Regions from separate parts of the Homo sapiens genome. Here region 1 is linked to region 2. Evidence: fine-mapped expression QTL. Tissue or cell type: lung. Region 2 holds a variant in brackets; the other region holds the start of a gene. Each region is shown on its reference strand, or each on the opposite one.

The links. PIP is the estimated chance that this variant, and not a neighbour inherited with it, causes the effect. A credible set is the group of variants that fine-mapping cannot tell apart.
Region 1: it holds the start of IFI6, and the variant in region 2 is the best candidate, but not a certain one, in a credible set for the expression of IFI6 in lung (TOPMed, PIP 0.62).

The regions. Positions count from the first base shown.
Region 1 is chr1:27,670,916-27,673,832 of GRCh38, reverse strand. IFI6 (interferon alpha inducible protein 6) reads left to right here and starts at 1,641. Exons shown (of 5, transcript NM_002038.4): 1 at 1,641-1,710. RefSeq lists an enhancer at 1,270-1,609.
Region 2 is chr9:21,412,518-21,415,434 of GRCh38, reverse strand. No RefSeq gene overlaps it. Among named protein-coding and RNA genes, the nearest start is that of IFNA8, 4.9 kb to the right of the region's middle. The variant G/C (reference allele first, on the strand shown) is at 1,631.

The DNA of each region.
Region 1 (2,917 bases), not on the chromosome of region 2:
CAAAAAACAAAGAACAAAACAAAACAAAAAATATATGATGGAAATGGTATATTCAAGGCTGAGCAAAGGGGTCTAAAAGGCTTGAGTAAATTAAATAAACAGGGAGCTCAGAGTCCTGTGGCGCCCAACTCTGTTTCTCTGGGTTTTCTCTTTGACCCATATATATGGCCTCATGGAGTGTTCCCAGCAACCAACAGATAATGGAGGAAAGGAGTCAAACTCAATTCACAGATAAGTCAGTATAATATTTTGGTATCAGCTGGAAACGGACCACTCTATTACAGCCCCATTTGGGGGTGGCACTGAATAATAGTGAATCCTCCCAGGGGGCAGAACTAGGAGCAGTATACCGTGTTGTTCCCTCTGTATGCAGAGAGAGAGAGAGAGAGATGGACTGAAGTACAGACATACACCAATTCCTAATAAGAGGCAAATGGCTTGGCTGGTTGGTCAAAGGCATGGATGGAACAAGATTGGAAGATTGGGAATAAGCAGGTGTGGGTTAGGGGCATAAGAATGAACTCTGAATGGGCATAAAGCACCTGGATCTCTATGTCTCATGTTAATGCTGACCAGAGATCATCTGCTGCAGAGGAGGCTCTACAGCCCAATGGCCAGGATGTCCCATCCTGTGGATGTCAGCCAGCCTCTAAACTTAGCCTCACTATTGCCTTGCAATAGACCTATGAGTGTCCAAGGTGGTAAGGATGGGGGTTAGAAATGAGTCCAACAACTTGGGCTCCCTCTCACCAAAACTGATCTGGCAATTGCCAAAATATAGCCAATCTGCCAGCAGCAGGTAGCAATATGGCAAAATTTCTCAATGAGAATAGCCAGCCATCTGGTGGCAGGTCAATTATTTCAGACCCCTTCCACTTGGGAGAAGGCAATGATTCATCCTTACTGGAATTTCTATGTTCTCCAAATAGAGGTTGCATTTCTGACCCATAGCACTTCAAGCATCACCATCCAAAGGCTTTAAAGAATGCTCAGTTCATTACCTAGGGCCAGGGGACCCATCTTGAAACTCAAGATCTATCATGATGGCCACATGAACACAGGCTTCACTGGTCTTACCATATGCCCATGACCCAGAAGCAGCCAGCCTGAGAGAACAATGGAACAAAGTGACTTAATTTCCAAAGTTCTGGGGGTTTATAAACAGCATATGGTATGTCACATGACTACTGTGGGATTGGAAAAAGATCATGTAAATAGAGCACTTTGCACAGACCCTGGCATGCAGCAAGTGCTCAATAAATGATAGGTGTTGTTTACTAATTGGACTGAATGGTGAAAGGCCTGTGTGCCCCAGGGGGAGCTGGTGATCAGGCTTCACTAAGCCCAGTATGGCCGTGGCTCTCATCATAGTGTGACATGCTTTGAATACCCTTAGCGGCTCCAAAAGTCCTCAGCTTGAAGTGCATTTTTCTGCCAGCAGGCAGCACACAAATGTTCCCGCTGGGCGGAGCTGGGAGAGAGGGGAAAATGAAACTCTGCAGAGTGCAGGAGCTGGGAGAGAGGGGAAAATGAAACTGCAGAGTGCAGAAATAGAAACTCCGACAGGGATTGGCTGCCTAGGGTGAGACGTGGGAGGATCCACAAGTGATGATAAAAAGCCAGCCTTCAGCCGGAGAACCGTTTACTCGCTGCTGTGCCCATCTATCAGCAGGCTCCGGGCTGAAGATTGCTTCTCTTCTCTCCTCCAAGGTAAACTCAGGAGCTATGAAGTGTGGGCATCAAGCTGCCACCCTCTGCCAGGCTGCCTGTCTGCCTGTAAATCTCATGTTCTGAGAGCCAGGAGGCCCCTTCTCCTGGGAGGCAGCACTCCTGGGTCCCTTTTAGTGCTCTGGGCTGGGACTTGTCTAAGAGGATGGGTTGGAGATTTTTAGGGAGATGGGATGCAAAACCCCAAGTGGCATGAGACCCAGCTTACAGGTGCAATATCAGCGATCTGTGGCCTTAACACTGTCACCTCTTGGAGCCTTAATTACTTCCTCTGTAAAAGGAAAGTTAAGTTGCCTTTGCTGCTCAAAGGACTGGATGATTTTAGAATCCCCTTTATTATAGGATCCAATGTGACAGTGAGTTCATCTTTAAGGATAGATGAAGCCATCTGGAGTGGTTGTTAAAAATGTGGGCTTGGTGGCCGGGCGTGGTGGTTCACGCCTGTAATCCCAGCACTTTGGGAGGCCGAGACCCACGGATCACGAGGTCAGGAGATCGAGACCATCCTGGCTAACACAGTGAAACCCTGTCTCTACTAAAAATACAAAAAAAATTAGCCGGGCTTGGTGGTGGGCGCCTGTAGTCTCAGCTACTCGGGAGGCTGAGGCAGGCAGGAGAATGGCATGAACCTGGGAGGTGGAGCTTGCAGTGAGATGAGATTGCGCCACTGCACTCCAGCCTGGGCGACAGAGAAAGACTCCATCTCAAAAAAAAAAAAAAAAAAATGTGGGCTTGGGTATTAGCCAATTGTGGGTTTAAACCCTGACTTTGCCATGACCTGGCTAGGCAGCCTTGGGAATATTACTTAACCTCTCTGAGCTTCAGTTTCCTTATCTATAACATGTGGTTGATAACAATGGTACCTACTTCGTGGTGTTGTTATAGGTACAAGTGGACTGCGTGCCATAAAGTGCTAAGTACTCAATACATGAGAGGAGTTTCTTGTTTTTCTTTTTAACTTAAGAAAATAGCATTGATCTGACAAAGATCATATTAGAGGTGAGTCTGAGGGCATATGCATTTTCCAGTTTTGTGGTATAAAGGAAAGAGCATAGGTTCATGAATTCTGACTGTCTTGAATGTGTACCCATGTTGCACAATTTGCTGTGTGACCTTTATCCCTTGTGATATTGTAAAATATATTTTTTCATCCCCCAGTTCCTGGCATACAACTCCTAAAATCCTTGGA
Region 2 (2,917 bases):
TGCATTATAACCAAAATTTAAGAGATGTCTTAGATTGCACTGGCCTCATGGAATAATTTTCCCTGTGGAGTGATGACTTGCTAGGTCCTTAAGAGGAAACAGCAGTTGGCAGCTGGCACTAGAATAAGGCTTGTCCCTTCCAAAACTCTGCAGGCTACTGTGGTCTATCAGTGTCTCCCATGCTGGAGTCACTGAGGTTGGCCATGTCTCTGTGAGACGACTCTGTGCTTCAGTCTTCATCCACTTTCAATCTTCTCTCCCTCTCTATGATCAGAGGATCTGAACAGTTAACTCCATCTGCTCATTCACGTAGTTCCATCTCTTGAGGACCTGCCACTGTTGCAGTCAATGTTTTAAACATCTCTATTCTCCTTCCAAGATATCAGACTGCTCCTCTTTTTTTCAACTTCTTTGTGTTGTGATGTATTCTGTTTTTTTTTGTTTTGTTTTGTTTGTTTGTTTTTAAACAAATGAGAGTCCTATGTCTGGTGCAGTCTCCTCTTAGGGGAATCAGAACATGGAAACTTCTAAACATAAGAACAGATGAGCTCCTGCATTCTTTACCAGTTCTTTGGGTCATAAGTATGGGGGAAGGCCTCCTTCCATTTACTGCATTTTGTGGCCTGACTGGACATCAGTGGGTCTGGACCCCCCACAGCTCATGAATCACCTGGCAGGAGGGGTCAAAACAAGGTCATATTCACACTCTTGCTTCCAAGGCTCTAAAAACTTAGCTGTCTCCAGCTAGTGCTGCATGGTTAGCCCTTGCCAAGTCTCCATGGGAACTGGAGTGCTTCTCCATGCTCCCTGTGGCCCTTCTCAGGTAAACTAGATGCACCTCAGCTGGGTTGGGAGTGTAGGGGGAAGTAATGTTTGGCACTACAGAGGGACCTGAATGGGTGGGGCATCTCAGCACTCACTGCCCTCCAACTTCACTCTCTGTCCTGGTCCTCCAGACCCACTGCTTGATTCCTGACTACTGTAGAACACATAACTGGTTAATAACTCCAGGATATGATGCAAGATATGGCTATAGAGATTTCCAGGGCAAGGTGACAGTTTGGAGCCAAGTCATAAAACTTTTACAACAACCTGAATATAATTTTTTTAAAGCATTGAAAAAAATGAAAGAGGTTATAACATTTGAAAGACATTATGGAGGGTAGAGCAAGGTGGCTGAATGGAGGGCACCATCGATGGTCCCACCCTCTCGGTAGGAACATCAAGTTTGACAACTGTCTATGCAAAGGGAGCATCTTCATAGGAACCAAAAATCTTGTGAACACTCACAGTGTCTGATTTTAACTCTATATCACTAAAAGAGGCACTGGAGAGGGTAGGAAAGACAGTCTTGAATTGCCATCCCCACCCTGCCTCCATCCCTAGCAGCAGCCACATGGCATGGAGAATCTGTGCACTTGGGAGAGGGAGAGTACAGTACGTGTGAGACTTTGCCTTAAATTCATGGCTGCCCTCTGACAGCAGAAAGCAGCACAGGGCTGTACTCAGCTGTGCCTGCCCATAGAGGGAGCATTTGAACCAGCCCTAGCCAGAGGGAAATGTCCTATCCCAGTGATGGGAGATTGAGTTCCAGCAAACCTCCCCACCATGGACTAAAGGGCTCTGGGAC[G/C]CTAAATAAACTTGAAAGGCAGCCTAGGCCACAAGGACTGTAATTTCTAAGCAACTCCTAGTGCTGAGCTGGGTTCAGAGGCAGCGAACAGGAAGGGGGCGTGTGACCTACTGAGACACCAGCAACAAAGGTTAAAGGAGTACTTGCAACACTTCTCCCGTAACCCCAGGAAGCACAGTTCAGAACTCCAAATGAGACCCTTCCTTCTGCTTAAAGAAAGGAGAGGGAAGATGTATTACTTTGTTTTCATGCTGCTAATAAAGACATACCTGAAACTAGGAACAAAAGGTTTAATTGGACTTACAGTTAGTTCCACATGGCTGGGGAGGCCTCAGAATCACGGCAGGAGGTGAAAGGCACTTCTTGCATGGTGCTGGCAAGAGAAAAATGAGGAATTAGCAAAAGGAGAAACCCTTGATAAACCCATCAGATCTCATGAGACTTATTCACTATCACGAGAACACCATGGGAAAGACCGACCCCCATGATTCAATTACCTCCCCGTTGGTCACTCCTAAATTTCTCCATCCTCCCCTCTAGAGGACAGAAGAAGACTGCAAACAATACAATTTTTTGTAATTTGTCTAAGGCCCTGGTCAACTCCCAGTCTGAAAGCAGCAAATCCAGATGTTGAGTGTGTAGCTGGAGGAAAAGACTCAAGAGGCCCCTGTGCAGTTGTAGGCTCTCCCTCCCTGCTACCTCAGCAATTCACACACACTTCCTAGTGAAATAACTCCAGAATATATGGTGTCAATTATAGGAATGCCTCTCAATCTCTACCAAAATTGATACATTTGAATAAATAGACCTCGCCAGCTCTCAGGGAACAGTAATGCTATTCTTTCACATTCCTTAGCTTCTATGGGAATTCTTCCTTTTTCTAACTGGGCAGGGGTTTTACTGTTGAGTGGAAGAACTGGAAAGATCATTATTCAAAATGACAGTGAGAAAATGTTTTAATTTGTTAATGTTTGAACTCTGATATTAGGATTAAATCTGTGAAATTAAGATTGTACTGCTGGTTTAATGCACCATTAAACATGAGGTTTCTGTGAATAGTATTAAGTTCCAATACAAAACGGCAGCCCTACCTGTGCCCTGGAGTCCCAATGTATGAGGATGGGGTGATCCTGGGGAGTAGACTGTTCTGCACAGTAGGGTGGGCAGATATTACATCTCTGTGTCCCTATCACTGCGAATCCCAAGGAGTCCATGCCTTGACTGTACCTGGAAACTCATTCTCTTTGTAATAGACCAGGGATAAGGAACAAACTTGGACAACATTAG